Homo sapiens: one gene and its partners. The protein of the gene in region 1 purifies or fractionates together with the protein of each later gene. This does not show direct contact. Each region holds a gene or a part of one and is shown in the gene's direction. Other genes may lie near its edges.

Region 1 (7,887 bases):
CAGATTTTCTGTTTGTTTGTTTTACAGATGGGGTCTCAGTCTGTCACCCAGGCTGGAGTGCAGTGGCACAATCATAGCTCAATGCAACCTCAAATGCCTGGGCTCAAGCGACCCTCCCGCCTCAGCCTCCCAAGTAGCTGGGACTATAGGCACATGCCACCATGCCTGACTTGTTTCAGATTTTGTACTTGTATTAGAAGAGCTGGTTGAGGAGTGTATCAGTTAGAATGCTTTCAGCTACAAGTAACACAAAGCTCAAAAAAGTAGATTAAACAATGAGGAAGCATGTCATTTCAAATAAGAAGTCCAGAAGTCAACCAGCTCCACAGTTGGCTAATACAGTGACTCTATAATGTCATCAAGGGCCCAGGTTCTTTCCTTCTCTCCACTTTCCCCACCTTCGGTGTGCTGGTTCTGTTCTCCAAAAGTTCCCTTCATGGTTAAAAAACAACTACAGCAGTTTCCTTTTCATATCCTAAGATGAAAACATGAAGAAAAAGATAAGGGATTTTGCGGGGAGGAAGGAAATAGCTCACTCACGCAGCTACATTCAGCTAGTAGGCTGGCTGAAGGGTCTGGGATGGCCTCACTTGTATATCTGGGGTCTTGGCAGGATATACTTGTAAGTATGAGACTTCTCTCTCCACATTGTCTCTTGTCATTCAGCGCTCTAGAGGAAACTTCTCTTTTTTCTGTCTTTTTAGACACAGAGTCTTGCTCTGTCGCTCAGGTTGGAGTGCAATGGTGCCATCTTGGGTCACTGCAACCTCCGCCTCCTGGGTTCAAGCCATTCTCCTGCCTCAGGCTCTCGAGTAGCTGTGATTACAGGCGCCCACCATCACACCTGGCTAATTTTTTGTATTTTTAGTAGAGACGGGGTTTCACCATGTTGGCCAGGCTGATCTCGAGTTCCTGACCTCAAGTGATCTGCCCACCTCAGCCCCGCAAAGTGCTGAGATTACAGGCGTCAGCCACTGTGCCCAGCCTGTAAATACCATTTTTAAGACTACAACCTCCACCTCCCCAATTCAAGCGATTCTCCTGCCTCAGCCTCCTGAGTAGCTACAGGCATGCGCCATCACGCCCAGCTAATTTTTTTGTATTTTTAGGAGAGACGGGGTTTCATCATGTTAGCCAGACTATTTCTATTAGGCCCGGCCTATTTATATTATTATTACACCGTAATATATAATGAAGGCCAGATGCGGTGGCCATGTAATCCTAGCACTTTGGGAGGCCAAGGTGGGTGGATCACTTGAGGTCAGGAGTTCAAAACCAGCCTGGCTAATAATGGCAAAAGCCAGTCTCTACTAAAAAATATAAAAATTAGCGTCATGTCGCATGCTTGTAATCCCAGCCACTCAGAAGGCTGAGGCAGGAGAATTGCTTGAACCCAGGAGGCAGAAGTTGCAGTGAACCAAGATCGCGCCATTGCACTCCAGCCTGGGCGACAGAGTGAGACTCTGTCTCTAAAAAAAAACAAAAAACAAAAAAAGCTACATAGGCCTCTCACAATTTGCCCACAAAGAAATTCCTTGTGGGCCTCCAAGATCTTTACACTAAAACAGTTCCGTTGAATTTCACCCCGACAATGTACATTGATGGTTTACCATCACAAGCACAGGACAAAGGACAAAACTAAAAAGTCATCCCTCTGCTCGCCTGAAACAAACACATAGCTGACTGCTGCCTCTGCTCTATGATTATTTTATCTTACGTGAAAATGCAGATTATCTGAGCGTGAGCAGAAAGCATCAGTGAAGACTATCAAAGACCCAGAAGAGGACACGGACACATGGAGCGGGGGAACAACACATACTGGGGCCTGTTGGGGGTCGGCGGAGGGAGAGCATCGAGAAGAATAGCTAACGGATGCTGGGCCTAATACCGAGGCAAGGGGTTGATCTGTGCAACAAACCACCATGACACACGTTTTCTTGTGTAACAAACTTGTATATCCTGAACATGTACCCCAGAATTAAAATAAAAGTTGATGACAAAGGCCAGGCAAGGTGGCTCACGCCTGTAATCCCAGCACTTTGGGAGGCCGAAGCAGGCAGATCACCTGAATTCAGGAGTTTCAGACCAGCCTGGCCAACATGGTGAAACCCTGTCTCTATTAAAAATGCAAAAATTAGCCAGGTGTGGTGGCGTATGCCTGTAATCCCAACTACTCAGGAAGCTGAGGCAGGAGAATCGCTTGAAACCAAGAGGCGGAGGTTGCAGTGAGCCAACTGCACTCCAGCCTGGGCGACAGAGCGAGACTCTGTCTCAAAAAACAAAAGCCGTTGAGATGTCAGTTGGCCCAGAAACACAAAGGGACAGTCACAGACTCACTGGACAAGGGTATGGCGTGGTCGAATGGCTAAAAGGTCAGGCACTGTGCCAGGTAGGCACTGGGTCACGGTGGTGAACAAGTAAGTTCCTGCACTCACAGATTTTACGCTCTAGGAGGGAGACAAAAAGTGTTTATGTCAAGCAGTTACTAATTCAAATGAAAGCAAAGAAAAATGGAAAAGAGAGAATGCATGTGTACTTGTGAAGGAGGAGAGTATGCAGGTTATGCAGTGTTGCATTGGGTTCTGGGGAGGCCTCCCTGATTGAGTGACATGTGAGCACAGACCTAAACTGAGGTATCTAGCCTTGCTGACATAGAGTAAAGAGCGAGTGCAAAGGCCCTGAGGCCGAGTGTGGCTAGAGTAGAACAAGGAGGAAAGACAGAAGAGGGCTGCATCCTCAAGGGCTTGTAGGCCACTGTAAGGCCTTTGTCTTTTCTTTCAAGTGGAAACCTCTGGAAAATTTTAAGTAAAGTGACATAATAAAAGGACCCCTATGACTGCAGTGTGAAGAATAAATTCAGAGTGAGCAAGGACAGGAGCAGGCAGATTAAAAAGAGGCGAGCGCAGTCATCCAGGCAAGAGATGATGAGGATTGGGGCAGGTTAACAGTGTAAATAAAAGAACATGACCCAGGCCGGTGCGGTGGCTCACGCCTGTAATCCCAGCACTTTGGCAGGTCGACACGGGTGGATCACGAGGTCAGGAGTTCAAGACCAGCCTGGCCAAGATGGTGAAACCCCAGCTAAACTACAAATATTAGCCAAGTGCGAGGGCAAGCACCTGTGATCCCAGCTACACGGGAGGCTGAGGCAGGAGAATTGCCTGAACCCGGGCGGCAGAGGTTGCAGTGAGCCGAGATTGTGCCACTGCACTCCAGACAAAAAAAAGAAAAAGAATATGACCCAGGCGAGTCTCAATCACTTTAAGAGGTTCACTTGCCAATGTTAAGAACGTACTTGGGGAAAAAGAACACATAACCACAGAAAAATCAGTGGTCCATGTTTTTTTTCTTTTTGAAGCTCCTTTTCTTATGCTATGTTCCCAAAAATTTGGGAAACAAACACTCAGCACCCACACTGAGGGGCCAAATCTCCCCGCTTCTACCCATCTGTTGAATTGAGACGTTAGATGGGCCCGTCTCGAGGGCCCTAACAGCTCAACAGTCGTGTGACGCCATTTGGCCAAGCTTGCGGGGCTTCAAAATGCAGTTTGAGACGACAGGAAGCAGGTAAGGAGAGGGAAGCCAGTCTGGAAGGAATTGAGCGGAGAACGTGGACTAGCCTGGTTAAACACTTGTCCTTAGCCTTCGCCCTTTCTGTGTCTAAAGACCATCGCTCTGAAACCTTGTTCTCCTGAGAGTGCTGGGGTCTTCTCCGGGCCTTCTGAGGAGCGCCGTTCAACGGCAGCAAAGGGCCCACGGAGTCCACTGGGGCTCCAAGCAATTTTTTTTTTGAGACGGATTCTTGCCCCGTCGTCCAGGATGGAGTGCAGTGGCACGTTCTCGGCTCACTGCGACCTCCGACTCCCGGGTTCAAGCGATTCTCCTGCCTCAGCCTCCCAAGTAGCTGGGACTACAGGCACCCGCCACCATGTCCTGCTAATTTTTGTATTTTTCGTAGAGACGGGGTTTTGCCATTTTGGCCAGGCTGGTCTCGAACTCCGGGACTCAGGTGATCCTCCCGCCTCGGCCTCCCAAAGTGTTAGTATTACAAGCGTGAGCCACCATGCCTGGCCTCCAAGCACATTTTGTTTCTGTATTAGCAACAGCTGTGCTCGGCCAGGGACGGTAAAAATATACGGTTCAGAAAATGCACCTCAGTGTGAACCAAATGTAGCTGAGGGCACTTTAACCTGGAAGGGACATCGCCACCTCACAAACTCCGGAAAGAAAGGGACACGGCTCTTCCATCATGGCTGCCGGAGACAGAGCAGCGAAAGGCAACGGAAAGGAAATGGCGCCGGGGCCCGCCGCCATTCTCAGCGGGCCCAGGGCGGTGGGGCGAGAGGGCTGGCGGCGCCATATAGGAAGGCCAGCCACGGAATTTAAGACCCTCCCGGCCTCTGGCGCCAGAGGACTCTGAAACTTGATAACAATATGGAGGACGGTTATTGTCTCTGCAAAGCAACTTCTTCAAGCCGGCCGCGGGGTCTGTACCGAGATCGGAATCAGGCAAAATCCTCTATTCTCTAAACAGAATGCGTTACGCATACTGCGCATCTTAGCAACAGCAGGCCGGCTAACGACGCAAAGAATGTTACGTCGCACCAGAGGCGCTTCCTCCCACCTCATCCCACGTTCTAGTTCGGGTGGCGCGAGAACTCTACGCTCGCTCCGTACTTTGTTTTTCTTGTACAGACCGCAAAATACACCCATCGTCGCAACTGACGTAAAGTGCTTCCAAGAATACCCGTAGTTCCCCGCGGAGCCCTCGGGCTATTCCGAGGCGCTGTTTACGTATCGTCTCCGCCGTACGCAGCGTTAAGTTGGAGCCGACTCAGCGGCGGCCGCCATTTTGTGCAGTCGCTGGGAAGGAAGGAGACGCCTAAACCGCGGCACTGCCCGGTTTGAGCGTAGCCAAACCTGCCCACCGGCTTTGTAGCCCCGATTCTCTGTGTTTTGCTCCCGTCTCCGACGAGAGAGGCGGCGACGGTGGCGTCTGCGACGGGAGACAGCGCGTCGGAGCGAGAGAGCGCTGCGCCTGCCGCCGCCCCAACAGCGGAGGCGCCGCCGCCATCGGTCGTCACCAGACCGGAGCCGCAGGCCCTCCCGAGCCCGGCCATCCGTGCCCCGCTCCCAGATCTCTATCCTTTTGGGACCATGCGCGGAGGAGGCTTTGGGGACCGGGACCGGGATCGTGACCGTGGAGGGTAAGGGTGGGGGAGGAGAGGAGAGGCCTGGCGTGGGGGTGGGGGAGTTGCTTCTTGGGGAGGCCCGGCGGACTGCGAGCCTGGGAGCCTTGCTCTCGACCCGGGAGGCGAGGGGAGGCGACTCGAGGCGAGACAGCGGTTTCGTGCGCGGACCTCGGCCCCGGGGTCACTCGGGACCCGAGGAGGGCGGCCGCTTGGCGACGCTGGGCCTCTCCGTGCGGACGGCCGTCGTGGCGCGGCCCGGCCCCATCCCAGCCCCGCGGGGGATCGGGAGGGGCGGCCTGGCCGCATCAGCCCAGGCCCGGGCTTTGGCGCCTCGCCTGGTTTCCCGGCTCTCGAGCCGGGCCGCTTCGGGCGGGCTGTTCGATGTCTCCAGGCCTCGGCGTTCATCTGAAAAACGCGGATCTTCCTGAGAGAACACTTCAGCCCAGGAAAGCCTTACACGAAATGGCACCCTTGACGTTCTCTCCCCAGAGTTCACTGTTTAAGGCACGGGAGACGAAAAGACCAACTTCTCATTTTTAGAAATAGATTTTAATTCTCTTCAGTTATATTTTAAGTCGGAGGAAATGCATTGGGATGTAAAGCAGTGGAGTTGCTTGCCATCTAAATGACCGTGTTTGGGGGAAGGATGGGTTTTTGGGTCGTTACTTTAGTTTTAATCTTAATATTTCAGCCTTTTTTCTCTAATTGGACTGCAGCGTCAACTATTCTGCCTCGCTAGAAAGTTCTTGGTATTGTGGACCGGGCGTGGTGCCTCAGGCCTGTAATCCCAGCGATTTGGGAGGCCGAGGCGGGCGGATCACCGGAGGTCAGGAGTTCGAGACCAGCCTGATCAACATGGAGAAATCCCGTTTCTACTAAAAATAACAAAATTAGCCTGGCTTGGTGGCGCATGCCTGTAATCCCAGCTACTCGGGAGGCCAAGGCAGGAGAATCGCTTGAACCCGGGGGGAGGAGGTTGCAGTGAGCCGAGATCGCGCCATTGCACTCCAGCCCGTGGCAAGAGCGAAACTCCGTCTCCCCCGACCCCCCCGCTTCCCCAAAGAGTTACGTGACGCCACTTGATATGTGTGTGTGTGACCTTGGTCAAGATCCTACCTTTTGTGAGCCTGTTTCCTCTGAGGAACGTGATAATTGCCTTTACTTTGCTGTGTTGTCAGGAATTAAGAGATAATGGATGTAATAGTCTCACTGTAGTAGGCGCTCTGTTAACGATATTTTCTCCAAACGTTTTTGTCTTTTGTGGTTCAGATCCACAACTGCTGGATTTACTAGTCTCAAGCACTTCAGTTGCCACTTTTTACAAAATTATTTTGATTTATACCTTATTAGGAAGGAAAATATTTTATCTCATTGTTTAGAGGATGAGAGGTGGAATGTTTGCTTCGCGTGTGACAGTATTGCTAAGTTTAGAAGTGAATTTCAGTTCATTGACTTAGAAAAAGAACTTGAGATTATCTAGGAAAGTTGAAAACGACCCAGCAATTCCTCCCTAAGCTTTATACCCTAGACTGTAATGCCTAGAGAAATCCTTGCACAGGTACCCCAGGATCCTTGTACAGAAAAGTTTATATACCAGCATTCGTGCTAACAGGATATTGGAAACAACGCAAATGTCTCCATAAATTGTGGGTATTCGTACAATTGAATCAGCCGTGAAAAAGAGAAAAGAACTTGGATTAATGTGGATAAGTCACAGAAGTGTTGAGTTAAAAAGCACGTTGTGGTAGGGTGACACATTTAATTAAGGATATGTGCAAATATGATAGGAAAGGGAGTGGTTAACAAAATTCAAGGTAGTGGTTATTAGGGTGAAAGTTGTAAGCTTGAAATAGGCACATAGAGGGGCTACAAGTTACTAATAGTGTTCTATTTCTTTACCATTGGTGTTTGGTTTAATATTTCCTTTCACCATATATATGCTTTAATAAGTTATTTGAAAGGAAAAAAGTGAATTACTGATCCATACTTTGAGTATCAGATGACATTTTTTAAAAATTTCAAACGAACTAGCCTTCTTTCATAAGATCTGTGCCCCAACTCTCCCTTTCCCAAGAAATGTTCTTGATTATTTGAATTGCTGTTGTTTCAACTGAGTGTTACACAGTTGAAGTGGTGGTTATTTTGAAAAAGGAATAGGTGAGGTCAGTTCATGTATTTCACATGTGTGATGCAAAAATGATAGGCATTGTACATTTGAAGTAGTATGGTTTTTAATGTTAATATATGACTTCAAAGGTGAATTTTTTTGTAAAGCCAAATTAAACTAATTACTGACCGGATAAAAACATTTGAGCAGCATAGTATACCAGAGAGTACAGTGTGCGTATTTAAAGATGGCATGGATATGCTCAAAAGTAAAAGGCTTTCTTGAATTTTGAGGTCATTAATTATGTCAGCATTAATTATAAACATGGAAGACGGCATATTTTCCAAGAACCACATGTTTCAAATTAAATGTTTAGTGTAGAATAGAATGTCTTGAATAAATAGCCAGGGAAGTAAGGAGAGAGGAAAAAAAAATACATGAATGATAATCATCAGTTTAAAGCCTTAACAGGAATCTTACTTTCAAGTTTTATTTTTTCCTAAGTCACTAAGGTTTGGGTAGCATTGCAATGTGGCAATAACAATGAAGTCTTTTATAATTTGCAAGAGTGATAATCCAAAGACTTTC
Region 2 (6,846 bases), on another chromosome or scaffold:
TAGAAACATTCAATCACTTCCATATTCACAAATATGAGGAAATTACCTGATTGTTGTGGTAGAAGTGTCTTTGCCTACTAAAAAGTGGTGTCTGCCCTCTCTGATCTGCTGAGCCCATGTGGGATGAAACCATATTACATGTGAAAAATGGCCAGCATAAACTGCAGGCATAATCCAATTTTCAATACTTAATTCTCTGGAAAAGAAACATAGAGACAACATTAAAACTTTTATTTTTATTTTTTCCCAAGTGTAATTTTATCCACAACATTTTAAGACCACAGGTCTCAAAGTGTGGTCCCTAGAGTGGTTCCTGAGACTTTTTCAGGGACATCACTATTACAAAACTATTTTCATGAAAATACTAAGGCATTATTTCCTGTTTTCATTTACTGACATTTGCAAAGATGGTGCAAAGGCACTGGTGGGTTGATGTTCCAACATTAATTAAGGCAGCAGCACCAAACTGTTAGTAGTTACTATATTCTTCATTACCAACCACTGCCAAAATAAATAAATAAATAAATATAAAAGTGTCATTCGAGAACATCTTGATTTTATTAAATTTCCATCCTGAGTATACATTTTTAAATATTATGTGTGGCAAAATGAGAAATGCACAGAAAGCTCTCCTGCTACATAGTTTGAAGCATAACAGTTGTCTCAAGGAAAAGCACTTGTGATTGAACTTTGAGGTGAACACCATTTATCTTGAAAGGAGTGGTCAAGAAACTATGGTTATTCACACTTGATACTGAATTGCTGAATTCTACATTTCAAATAAGCTTTAATAAACTACTACTTTTCAAGTTTTGGCGCACTATCAAAGAATATTCACAATTATCTAAAAAGGCTATCAAAATATTCTTTCCTTTTCCAATTACATGCCTGTGAAAGCCTGAATCTTCATCATATATTTCAACCAAAACAGCATATGGCAATGGACTAAATGCAGAAATAGACGTGAGAATCCAATGGTCTCTATAAAGGCAAATATTAAAAGGATTAAACATTGGCTAGGCTGTTTTTGTAAACAAAGTTTTTTTGGTTTGTTTCTTTTAAGAGATGGGGTCTGGTTATGTTGCCCAGTCTGGAGTGCAGCAGCTATCCACAGGCTTTGATCACAGCCTGGAACTGCTGGCCTCAAGTGATCTTCCCACCTTAGCTTCCTGAGTAGCTGGGACTACAGGCTCATCCACCATGCCCAGCTTGTAAATAAAGCTTTATTGGAACACAGCTACTGTCATTTGTTTACACAGTGCTTGTGATTGCTTTCACACTACAAAGGCAAAGATTAATAGTTGCAACAGAGACCATATAGCCAGCAAACCTAAAATATTTGCTAATCTGGCTCTTTAAGAAAGTTGTCAACACTTGTTCTAAATAAAATGAAAAAGACAAAAAGACAAACAAAAAACCCCCAAACCCATGAGTTTAGCAAAGTCTATTTCCTATAATTGCTTATTATCTACTGCAAATTGTACTTCAAACACAAAAGACCATAAATAAAATCACATATTACCCAAAGAGTGTTTCCTTATCAAACACGGTGTCTGCTGGCATATTCACAGGAATAAGGAGGTCTGGATGTGAGTCGAAATGTAAAAAACTTACATTACTGGCAGGAAGATGCTTTGAGCCTATGGCCCGGTATATAAAGGGTAGAACCTGTAAAAGACACAGGCACACAATAAGAATTAACACTGAAACCATGAGCACACACTCAACTGCAGACTGAAAAACAATGCTAAATAATGCACATAATTGAAAGCATACTATGTTGCTGTAAAGTGGAAAAACATAAAATTTGTTTACTGTAGATGGTGCAGATGATAATCTCAAGCATTACTTTGTCCTCAGAACTTCCAACCTGCATCTCCAGCGGCCTTCCTGCTGCCCCCTTGAACTCAACAGGTCATGTGGGGAAACAGACCAGGACTGGGGCTCAGGAACAAACTACCGCTTAATGCCTGTTCTAACATTAACTAGGTGTTCAAGGTACCCTAGGTCTCAAAGTATTCTTTTTTTTCCTTTAAAAAGGGATAGGGGCTTGTCAGTTGCCCAGCCTGGAAAGCAGTGGTGTGATCATGGCTCACTGCAGCCTTGGACTCCTGGGTTCACACGATCCTCCCACCTCAGTCTCCTGAGTAGCTGGGATTACAGGCACGCACCACTACGCCCAGCTAATTTTTTCACTTCTATTTTTGTAGAGATGGGATTTCGCTCTGCTGTCCAGGCTGGTTAGGGTCTTTTTGGTACACTTAGAATGGTGGGGTTGGGCTAGGTGGTCTATAAAGGCCATTTCTCCTCTTACATCTTCTCTAATTCTAGGTTTAATACCTAATTTGAAAGCACCGTCTAACCTAGGCTTTCTCATTCTCTCAAGGTCATAGACACTATATCCAGGTCCTGAGAAACCTATCTTCCTCTCCTATTAGCTGTCACCAACAGTAAATCCCTCTTCTTTTTTAACGTCCAGAGAACTGCCTCCCATCCCAAGCCTACTGATGCTACTTTAAAACATATTTATTAGATCCATGGGCCTCCTTTGTTGACTTGGAAAAGTCTAGATTAAGACACCAATTTGGCTACTGTAAATCAGCACGGCCATAAACATGGAAACCCCTTTTAGTGTTTATCTATGCAGGGCACCGTGTTAAATTTTTTTTTTTTTTTACGCAATATGGGCCGTGCGCAGTAGCTCACGCCTGCAATCCCAGCACTTTGGGAGGCCGGCGGGGGCCGATCACGTGAGGTCAGACTTTCAGACCATCCTGGCTAACGTGGCGAAGCCCCGTCTCTACTAAAAATACAAAAATTAGCTGGGTACGGTGATGCGTGCCTGTGATCCCAGCTACTCAGGAGGCTGAGACAGAAGAATCGCTCGAACCCAGGAGGCGGAGGTTGCAGTGAGCCGAGATCGCGCCACTGCACTCCAGTCTGGGTAACAGAGAGAGACTCCGTCTCAAAAAAGAAAAAAAAAAGATTTTTAAACACAGTATGCACACAATAATACTCCTAAGAGCCCTGTGAGTCCTACGATTACTGTCCCCATTTCAGATCAGAGCCCACGTTCCAAGCATAAAGCCTCCCATCTAAACAGCAGGGCTGTGGTGGCGATTCCAGGAGATACTTGGAAGCCAGAGTTAACTGCAGGTTAAGAACACAGGGCTCTGCAGCCAGACTGTCCGGTTTCGAATCCCGATGCCACCTTTTGTTTGGTTCTGGGATTTGGGGGCAAACCGAGGTAAATAAGTTGCCCCGACTCGTAGGAAGCGCCCATAAATGTCAGTTCTCATTCTTCCTAGTTAGCTGTTTTGGGGTCCTCTCCACAGCAACGGAATAGGGCAGTTTAACTCTGGTTAACTCTCTGGCCTCCGATGCTAAGGTTGCGCCCTCTGCTTGGCCCTCTGAGCGTCAGGGCTTCCGCTGATTCTGCCCCAGAGCCCTGTTGCCGTCCGCTCACCTCCTGATGATCCTCCACCACCCACACTGGGAGCTTGGGGTAACGCCGGAGACCAGCGCGCCCTCCCGCGGAGTCACTCATGTTTTTGCGCCCGTCAGTTTTGCAGTAAAGCGGTGGCAGCTGGAGAAGACCCGGGAAAGCCGGCGCCTCATCCCGGCCAGCTCTCTCCGGGCGGAAGCGCTCCCTCACCCGGTTGCGTTTTCGGATTGGAGGACGTAGGGGGAGGGGGCGCGGGCTCCAAAGGGTCTTTTGCTGACGATTGGTCTAGACGTCCATCGCTTTCGTTGACGCGCCAATCACCGCGCACAAGGCCCTGCGGTGGGCTGAAGAGTTTTCCCTCCCTTGGCCCAGCTTTCTCAGGTTTGCTTTTTAATTCCCTCGGTTTCCTGTTCCGGAGGCGCGGGCGGTGCCACTGTCTTGGTACCTGCGGTAGTAGCCTGGCTTTGCTCTGACGGCGATCTCGCGGCCCGAGAGCCTTTTATAGGTAAAAGGGGTACCTTGCAAGTGTTAGAAGAGAGTTTCCGAGTGTCAGGATTTAAACGGGGCTGGAGTCTCCGGGGCTGGGGTGAAAAGCGTCCGGGAATTGGGGTCGGGCAGCCCCACTTCAGATCTGCAGCTAAGGGCAAAAGAGCGACGCTAGGCCTGGATCCCGCAAATAAGTGGAAGTGAAAAAGGAGACCTTTCATTCATTTGTGGAGCACACACTATGGTCCAGGCCTGGGGCCGCCCGGCTCTCGGAGGGGAGTGAGATCCTGAGCTCAGCGCCTGCCTCGTGGGGCGTACCGTCTGGCGGGAGATGCAAACAGTAAATGTGCAGTTATGGATCAGGATGAAGGTGACTGCCCTGCAGATCCACCTGGGGAAAGAGGGAGTTCTCAATAAAAATGTAGTCACACTTTAAAATTCTTTTTACATGCACTGACGTTCTGGCCGTGTTAACTATTCAAGACAGCTCCTTCAGTGTCTCTGTTTCCAAACCGCAACCGAGAAGAGACAGACGGAGAAAAGAGAGTTACTTTTCCAGGTGCAGTGAATTCCTTGACTTTTGAATTAAAGTCTGCATCCACAACACAGCCGGACTATGCCTTCAATAGGTCAATTTCATGATTAGTATTTTTAGATTTTCTAACTACTGAAACATCCATGAGGATCTGGCAGTGAATGTTCAGCTCTTGTTACACACTGTACAAGAGTGTTCGTGACCCTGACTTTTGCCCACCTCTAGGTGCGGCACACACCTTTGTGTTCCCCTAAGCCCTGCACATACCTCTTTTTTGTGTGTTTATTGCATTATTTTGTATTTTTAAAACACTTACTTGTACGTGGGTTCTGAGTTCCTTGAATCCTACAGGCTGTGTGTCTTATTATCTCTGAGTCTACAGGGCCTGGGACAGTGCTTCCCATTTATGGGCTCATTAAATATTGCATGACTCAGTGAAAAGGCCTGCTTTCTGTTGCGGAGGTACATGGAAGGGAAATGTACAGTAGCAACATGGAAACATACTATTGGTGAGAGAGTAAACATTTATTGACCACCTACTGTGTGTAGGTTGCTTTTCCCGGGGATGTGAAGGATACAGAAATGACTGTGAATCAACCCATATCATCAAGGAGCTGATAATCTAGTGGAAGAGTTAGACGTGTGCATACTTCACTATGATATGAGGCAGTCTCTGGTAAGTGCTGTAAAAGGATTAAGTATAGACTAAGTCTAGAGGGAATGGGATTACCTAAGGGAATCAGGAAGGGCTTCATAGAGGAGGTGGCATTTAAGATTGATAGATGGATAGAAAATCACTGGGCAGATTCATACGTTGGGAGATTTTTTTTTTTTTTTTTTTTTGAGCTAGAGTTTCGCTCTTGTTGCCCAGGCTGGAGTGCAATGGCGCGATCTGAACTCACTGCAACCTCTGCCTAGGGTGGGAGATTTTAGAGAGGAGAACGGGAGCAAAGAACTAGCTGGTTCTTTGTACTCGAATGGTAATCTGTTGGGAAAACATGGGGTAGTAGGGTCTTTCTGGGGAAGGTACTGGAGAACAAGCCTGGGTCCAGAGTCAATAGAGCCTTAAATGCCAAGCACAGAGGTTGAACTTGATTCTGTTGGCAGTGAGTAGCCTATGGTGGCAGGAGCACCTGTCCGGGCCCCAGGTTTATCATGAGGGTACTGGACTGGATAATAGTAATAAGGAGTCAGGCGCAGTGACTCACGCCTGTAGTTCCAGCTATTTTGGAGGCTGAGGTGAGAGGATTGCTTGAGCCCAGGAGTAAGAGACAGCAGTGAGCTATGATTGCACCACTGCACTCCAGCTTAGGGACAGAGTAGACTTTGTGTCTTAAAAAAAAAATCAGATATTATTTGGTGCCTATTATTTATTAAGCACACTGACTGCTAGCATAATCTGAAATTATTTTCATGAGCCATTTGAAAGTCTACATAGTAAAGTTCTATTGATGAGACTTTTAGAAAGACTTTCAGAAAATGTTTCTATGTTACAGCTTTTTGTACTCAATATTTATGTGAGTTTTTAAAAAATGTTTTGCTGAAGTTCAAGTATTTGGAAAATCATTCATGTTTACAGTGTTTTTATGTGGGAGGAACTGAGAATGAAAATTAAGAATCATTAACTGGTGTGTTAACAAGATTCTGGTTATGTTTGAATTTGAATGCTGGTCTCACTGTGATTTTTGTGTTTGGTCTATGCCTACATGGTTTGTTTTTTTTTTTGTTTTTTTTTTTTTGTTTGTTTTTTTGAGACTGTCGCCCAGGCTGGAATGCAGTGGCGCCATCTCGGCTCACTGCAAGCTCTGCCTCCCAGGTTCATGTCATTCTCCTGCCTCAGCCTCCCGAGTAGCTGGGACTACAGGCGCCCACCACCACGCCCGGCTAAGTTTTTGTATTTTTAGTAGAGACAGGATTTCACTGTGTTAGCCAGGATGGTCTCCACCTCCTGCCCTCGTGATCCACCTGCCTCGACCTCCCAAAGTGCTGGGATTACAGGCGTGAACTACCATGCCCGGCCTATGCCTACCTGTTTTTACCATGAAGGAAACGAGAGTATGAAGGGGGAGAGGGGAAATGATATTTTTCCCAAGTCTTTTAACAAATTAGAGATGATCTATGCCTATAAGTCTTTTTAGCTGCTGATAGTTTTGAGTTGGCAAAACTAGTAATAATGACATTTTAAAATTTAAGGACATTAAAAATTTAGTTGGAAACTTTAACACAGTTCAACATGCTTTTAATTTTGTTTGTAGGCTAAGTGTATTGGAAACTACAAAATTAGTGTTATGGTAATTGCAGAAATATTTTGTAGCATTGGCAGTTTGGGAAACATGTTTATGTCTGTTTTATTCTTTCTGTTTTTTAGAGCTTATATTCT
Region 3 (7,000 bases), on another chromosome or scaffold:
GTTCAAATCATACCGTTTTGTATCCTTTTTCTTACAACATATAAACGTTCCAATTATGTCGTTAAAATTTATGGGGAGTCTTAATAGCAACATGATAGAATATCCTATGTTTAACCCAGATTCAGTAATCTAGATAATTGGTTCCTCCCAGTTTTTGCTATTATAAATGCTGTTTTTAACTGACTTTTGTTTTCTTAGATCTGAAGAAGACACTTGAATCATGGGTGACGTTAAAAATTTTCTGTATGCCTGGTGTGGCAAAAGGAAGATGACCCCATCCTATGAAATTAGAGCAGTGGGGAACAAAAACAGGCAGAAATTCATGTGTGAGGTACTGAAGAATACAGTTTGCATTTATGTGATTTATGAGGTTCATTTTGGGGTTAAAAGAAAAATGTTTTCTGTTTGGAGATGTTAATGTGTTGCACATTAGGAAACGACAGTTCTTTATTGTGACTTGACTGCTATTGTAAATCATTTTCAAGTCAGCATTACTTTTAAAACAATCTGACAGGTAAATTATTCTAATTAGAGCCTATATCTTCCTCAGCTTCCTCAGTACCAGTAGTGGGGATGGGAAAAGTTGGATCAACTGTTTGCAGTTTTATAAGCACGTTTAGAAAGCAGAGCAATTCTTGATTGCTTCAAATCAAAGTGCTTAAATACAAATGGAGAGCTTGTTCATGGATATTACAGAATCAGATTTTAATGTGAACCTTCTGTTATATGAGAAAAAAAAATCTGAGCCACTTAAATTATTTTTGGATACAACACAATTTAAGCTTTTTCAGTAGCTCATGCATTCTCTTATTTTTATATTTATATTTATAGAGTATATTTCCTAAAGTTAGCTGTTTGTTGTCTCTTAATGGACTACTGAATTACGACTTTTTAAAATCTCAGAATTACCCAGGTCAGTCTCTTAGTACTTTTTTTTTTTTTTAAAGGTTCAGGTGGAAGGTTATAATTACACTGGCATGGGAAATTCCACCAATAAAAAAGATGCACAAAGCAATGCTGCCAGAGACTTTGTTAACTATTTGGTTCGAATAAATGAAATAAAGAGTGAAGAAGTTCCAGCTTTTGGGGTAAGTACCTATGGCGAAGCACTTGAGATGTATGTTGTAAAGTTGTACAAACTCAATATGCGTAAGAGACTCAAGATAGTAATTTTTCACTGTTTTCAGATATATCGTGTTTCGTAATGAAATTTGGCATCTTGTTTTGTCTCAGCACTGGACAAAATTTCTGAAGATGTGGATTGCATCCTTATTATATACCTGTCTTAGGGGCTTGAGAAATTCCATTAATCTTTGTGTCTTATGGCTTTATTTCATGTATTTATACACCAGAAATTTCAGAGTCTGTTATGTTCCATTCATTACCAATGATAATACTTTAAATAAAATAGAAAAATCAGTAATATTTTAGACATGTTTGCTCCCATTGACACTCCCCCTGCCCCGTAAGCGATGAGGTCTTGCTCTGTTACCCAAGCTAGAATGCAGTGACACAACCATAGCTCACTGCAGCCTCAAACTCTTGGGCTCAAGCAGTCCTTCATCCTTAACCCCCTTAGTAGCTGGACTACAGGTGCATGCCACCACTTCTGGCAAGTTCTTTGTGTTTTGAGGCAGAGTCTTGCACTGTCGCCCAGGCTGGAGTGATCTCGGCTCACTGCAGCCTCCGCCTCCTGGGTTCAAGCGATTCTCCTGCCTCAGCCTCCGAGTAGCTGGGATTACAGGCACGCTCCATGATGCCCAGCTATTTTTTATGTTTTTAGTAGAGATAGGGTTTCACCATGTTGGCCAGGCTGGTCTTGAACTCCTGACCTCAAGTGATCCATCCACCCACTTCCGTCTTCCAAAGTGCTGGGATCACAGGCATGGGCCACTGCACCTGGCTGACATGTCCTTATATAACAAAATAGTATTTTATGCAATGGAGTATTTTTGTGTTTTTTATGTCATGATTATCTTAATTATATTACGTAAGTATGCAACAAATACCTCTGTCTAGTAGGTTGTTTTGGGGGATTTTTGTTTTGTTTTTCTGCCTTTTTTCTTTTTGGGGCTCAATCAAACTCTTGGCCTCAAGCCATCCTCCCACTTCAGCTCTTCCCCAGTAGCTGGGACTGTGGGTGTGTGCCGCTACACTAGGCTCTAGTAGTTTTTAAGAAATAAGGTTTTTTTTGTTTGTTTGTTTGTTTTGTTTTTTAAGACGGAGTCTTGCTCTGTTACCTAGGGTGGAGTGCAGTGCTCACTGCAACCTCCACCTCCTGGGTTCAAGCAGTTCTCCTGCCTCAGTCTCCTAAGTAGCTGGGATTACAGGCACCTGCCAACATGCCCAGCTAAATTTTGTATTTTTAGTAGAGACGGGGTTTTACCATTTTTTGCCAGGCTGGTCTCGAACTCCTGACCTCGGCCTCCCAAAGTGCTGGGATTACAGGTGGGAGCTACGGCGCCTGGCCCACGCCCAGCTAATTTTTGTGTTTTTAGTAGAGACAGATTTTCACCATGTTGGCCAGGCTTGTCTTGAACTCCTGACCTCAAGTGATCCGCCCCCTTCAGCCTCCCAAAGTGCTGGGATTACAGGTGTGAGCCACTGTGCCCAGCCTGTCTATGCCAGTTTTAACAGGGTCCTGTTACTGAATTTTTGTATTCTGCCTTGTTTATGACAGTATTCTGACTCGTTATGAAAGAAATCTTATTTCCTTCCATTCCTTTGACTAAGAACTCGATAGACTTACTTTCCGGTAGATTAACTGCTGGGTAATTATAGTATCTTACAGTCTTTAATTTTATTGGTTTGCCTATCTGTAAAATGAAGGGATTGGGCAAGATCATCTTAAAAATGCCTTCTGGTAGAGAAAACAGTTTTGCAAATGTCTTTTACATGTTTGAAGTCTCCCTCTATTCTTTATCTTTTAGGCTCTTCTCTATGGTCTTGTAGATCTGCTAGTGACAAATTCTCTTATTCTCTTTCTGAAAATATTTTTATTTTACCTTCTTTAAGAATATTTTCACTGGATGTAGAATTCTGGGGTACCAGATATTTTTTTCCCTCTTTTGGTATGTAAGTGGAAAAAAAAAAAAACAATTTTCCTCTTCTCTCATACCACAACAATCAACAAAGAAGATTTCTGTGACTAAATGTGGGGTGGAGGTGGGGGACTTTTTCCACACACCCCAAGCAAGCAATCAGTTCTGCAGCAGTCACTAGCAGGGTATCCTCCAGTTCAACTCTGACACTACCTGGAGATAGCGTCAGACTCCACAGGGTGAGGACTCAGTCCCACAAGACTCCCCAGCCCCTTCAGACACCACTTGCAAGTCTGGGCCTCTAGAACTTCTGACTGACTAGCTTCAAGTTATGGTTTTCATGACTGCCTCTTTGGGGTCAGTTAATTTGCTAGTGTGGCTCACAGAACTCAGGAAAACCTACATTTACCAGTTTATTATAAAGAATACTACAAAATACAGTTGGTGAAATAAGTAGGGCAAGATATGGCGGAGGCAGCAGGGAGCTCCCATGCCCTGCCTCGAACACCATTCTTCAGGAACCTCCACCTGTTCGGCCATTTGGAAGCCCTCCAAACCCTGTCCTTTGGTTTTTATGGAAACTTCATTATTCAGTATTGATTAAATCGTTGGCCATTGGTGACTTGACCTTCAGCCCTTCTCACTTCCCCAGAGGCTGGGAGGTGGGACCGAAAGTTTCAGCCCTCTAATCTTTCCTTGGTGGTTCTGGTGACCATCCCCCCACACCTGAAGCTACCTAGGGCCTGCCAGCCAGCAGTCAACTCGTTAGCATACAGAAAGTCTCCACTTAGGAGATTATAAGGATTTAGGATTTCTATGCCAGGGAAATGGGATTGAAGACCAGATGTACTTTTTTTTTTTTTTTTTGAGATGGAGTTTCGCTTTTGTTGCCCAGGCTGGAGTGCAGTGGCATGATCTCGGCTCACCGCCACCTTTGCCTCCGGGTTCAAGCGATTCTCCTGCCTCAGGCAGGAGTATCTGGGATTACTGGCATGTGCCGCCATGCCCGGCTAATTTTGTATTTTTAGTAGAGACGGGGTTTCTCCATGTTGGTCAGGCTGGTCTCCAACTCCCAACCTCAGGTTATCTGCCCGCCTTGGCCTCCCAAAGTGCTGGGATTACAGGCGTGAGCCACTGAGTCCAGCCAGAGACCAGATAGGCTTTAAAGATAATATGACACTGTCTACTTGCTGTTTTCTGTAAGAAGTCAGCTATAATCAAATCACTCTCTCCCATATGTAATGTGGTAGTCTGTGTTTTTAAGATCTTTTCCTGTTATTTTTGGTTTTTAGTATTTTGTGTTGTGACCGGGCATGGGTTTTTTTGTATGTGTGTGTTCTAACTTGTTCAAGGTTTGCTGAGATTATTGAATCCATAGATTTATGTATTTCACCAACTTTGAGAGACTTAGCTATTATTTAAGATATTTTTTGTTTTATTTTTTCTTCTTTCCTCTTGGTGTTTATATTTATAAAGACTTGATATCCCACAGGTCCCTGAGGCTCTCTTTTTTTTTTCCTATCATTTTTTCCACTGTTTCTCAAATTGAATAATTTTTATTGATTATCTTCAGATTCTTTGATAGTTTTTTCTGTCCCTTCCATTTTGCTAAGCCCACCCAGTGTATTTCAGACACTACCTTTTTCACTTTTAAAATCTCCAGCTTATTCTTTTCTGTATGTTTTCTCTGGTGGCATTTCTTTTCATTCGTTATAAGTGTATGTTTGTAATATAAATATGGATTTCTTTTATGTCATGAAGCTTAATTCTAATAGCTGCTTTAAAATCCTTGCCTACTACTACTAACATCTGAGTCATCTCAGGGTTGGATTCTCTTGATAGGTATATTTTCTTGAGGTTGGATCACATTTTCCTCTTTGTGTATCAAATAATTTTTTATTGCATTCTGGGCATTGGAATATTATGCTGTGGAGACTCTGAATAATGTTATACTCCTCCAAAGAGCATTGATTTGGTTTTTTTGTTTTGTTTTGTTTTGTTTTTAATCAGGCATTTAATTTAACTGGACTCAAACTGCAAATGCTGTCTTTTGGATGTTAACTCAGATCTCACCTCAGTTTTCTGATCATTTAGGACAGCCATGGAAGAGTCCTTCAGGTCTCCTTTGCTGGGCAGCTTGGAATCTGCCCTGTACATGAGTGGTTTTCAAGGGTTAGCCAGAGATTTCAATATACAGAATTCGGGGCTCCTCCTCTCTGGCTGTTTCCTTTCCAGCATTCCCTCACTTTCTAGCAGCTTTGCTTTCCCTGAACTCTAATTCTGATTCTTCAGGCCAAAAAGATGGTTTCATTGGAGGTTTAGCTGCCTGGGATGGCTTCTCTCAGGCTAAAAGCTACAGTAAACTGGAATTAGACCCTTGATACTCCGTGCTTCCCCATTTTAACTTCTCTCAAGAATCTACCTGCTTTTTTCGTTCATTTTTTATTGCCTGCATATAGTTCTGGTGTGTTGTGTGTGTGTTTGTATTTTTTCCCCCTAAAGTTTATTTTACCTGCAGGAGGGTCAGTCTTACAGGAACTTACTTGGCTACAACCAGAAGTAATCCCCTAGGTGATTTTTTTATTATTGTTTTAACATGGCTCAGGTGTTTCCTATTAAATGCTCTGTGGATTTCCTACTTTCTTCCTTATTTCCTCTGTTCCAGCTACAGTAGCTGTACTTCTTCATAGGTCTTCAAATAAGCCCTCATCTTTCTGCCTCAAAACTTCTATACCTGAAGGACTCTTCCCCAGCTGTCCTATTTAACATTATAAACATTGTCACCCTCAGGTTACTTCCTAAACTCCTTCAATGCTTTATTTTTCTCCGTAACACTTACTTTTTAACTCAGTGTTTCTCAACTGGAGACCATTTTGTCCCCTCAAGGGATGTTTGGGGATGTATGGAGATATTTTTGTTGTTGTAACTCGAGGAGGCCACTGACATCTAGAAGGTGAAGGCCAGGGATGCTGCTAATGACCTACAATGCACTTGACAAACTCCTACAACAAAGAATTAACCAGCCTAAAATGTCACCAAGATGAGAAACCTTGTTCCAACGTAATTTATTTTTGTTTCATTGTATTAGAATGTAAGTTCGTGAGGGCAGGGATTTTTTTGTTTTTAGTTCGTTGCTGTGTCTCCAACATTTAGAATGGTTCCTGGTCTATAGCAGATACTTAAATGTTTTTTGGTTGACTGAGTAAATGAATGGATGAATTTGGAAAAAAAAATTATAACAACCCATTTCTACTTTTAACCCCACTGTATTATTAGTCCATTCTTGCATTGCTATAAAATACCTGAGACTGCATAATTTATAAAGAAAAGAGATTTAATTGGCTCACAATTATGCAGGCTTTACAGGAAGTGTGGTACTGGAATCTGCTTGACTTCTGAAGAGGCCTCAGTAAACTTAGAATGATGGCAGAAGGTGAAGGGGAAGCAGGGATGTCCTACATAGCAGGAGCAAGAGAAAGTAAAGGGGAAGATGCCACACACTTTTAAATGACCAGATCTCATGAGAACTCACTCACTGTTGCTAGGATAGCAGTACCAAGGAAAGTGGTACTAAACCATGCATGAGAAACCCACCTCATGATCCAGTTACTTCTCACCAGGCCCTACCTCCAACATTGAGGATTAAAATTTGACATGACATTTGGGCAGCGATACGTAACCAAACTGTTACCAGCTACCATCTTTATCTTACCTCCTCATTCTAGGGAAATCCTTTTTCATAATCACTTATTTCATCTGGAACTTACCCTTTCATGCCATAAATTGCATTTGCCAAAAGTGAGCATGTAGAGGATATTTTAAAATTTTTTTTGCTGTGGACAATTGTAGATGTGTATAAAAGAATAATATAGTGAAACTCCATGTTTCCGTCATCTGGCTGCAACACTTTCAATTTTACTCATTTCTAACTACTCCCCTTTCTTAGATTATTTTGGAGC

What was found. The genes of interacting proteins can lie anywhere in the genome.
Region 2: the proteins of DDX17 (region 1) and DROSHA purify together in Homo sapiens (co-immunoprecipitation; 3 studies listed by IntAct, with this or other methods). This does not show direct contact.
Region 3: the proteins of DDX17 (region 1) and DHX9 fractionate together in Homo sapiens (co-fractionation; 3 studies listed by BioGRID and IntAct, with this or other methods). This does not show direct contact.

What each region holds. Positions count from the first base shown.
Region 1 is NC_000022.11:38,503,271-38,511,157, reverse strand, and holds the start of DDX17 (probable ATP-dependent RNA helicase DDX17 isoform 1 precursor), read left to right. Parts: upstream 1-4,846; 5' UTR 4,847-4,920; coding exon 4,921-5,207; intron 5,208-7,887. Other genes in the region: DMC1 (meiotic recombination protein DMC1/LIM15 homolog), read left to right, coding at 1,730-1,865. UniProt on the Homo sapiens protein: As an RNA helicase, unwinds RNA and alters RNA structures through ATP binding and hydrolysis.
Region 2 is NC_000005.10:31,529,094-31,535,939, reverse strand, and holds the start of DROSHA (ribonuclease 3), read left to right. Parts: upstream 1-3,846; 5' UTR 3,847-3,950; intron 3,951-4,414; 5' UTR 4,415-4,490; intron 4,491-5,015; 5' UTR 5,016-5,142; intron 5,143-6,834; 5' UTR 6,835-6,846. Other genes in the region: UPF0489 protein C5orf22, read right to left, coding at 47-196, 889-981, 1,523-1,668, 3,467-3,547. UniProt on the Homo sapiens protein: Ribonuclease III double-stranded (ds) RNA-specific endoribonuclease that is involved in the initial step of microRNA (miRNA) biogenesis.
Region 3 is NC_000001.11:182,842,347-182,849,346, forward strand, and holds part of DHX9 (ATP-dependent RNA helicase A), read left to right. Parts: intron 1-198; 5' UTR 199-220; coding exon 221-331; intron 332-947; coding exon 948-1,088; intron 1,089-7,000. UniProt on the Homo sapiens protein: Multifunctional ATP-dependent nucleic acid helicase that unwinds DNA and RNA in a 3' to 5' direction and that plays important roles in many processes, such as DNA replication, transcriptional activation, post-transcriptional RNA regulation, mRNA translation and RNA-mediated gene silencing.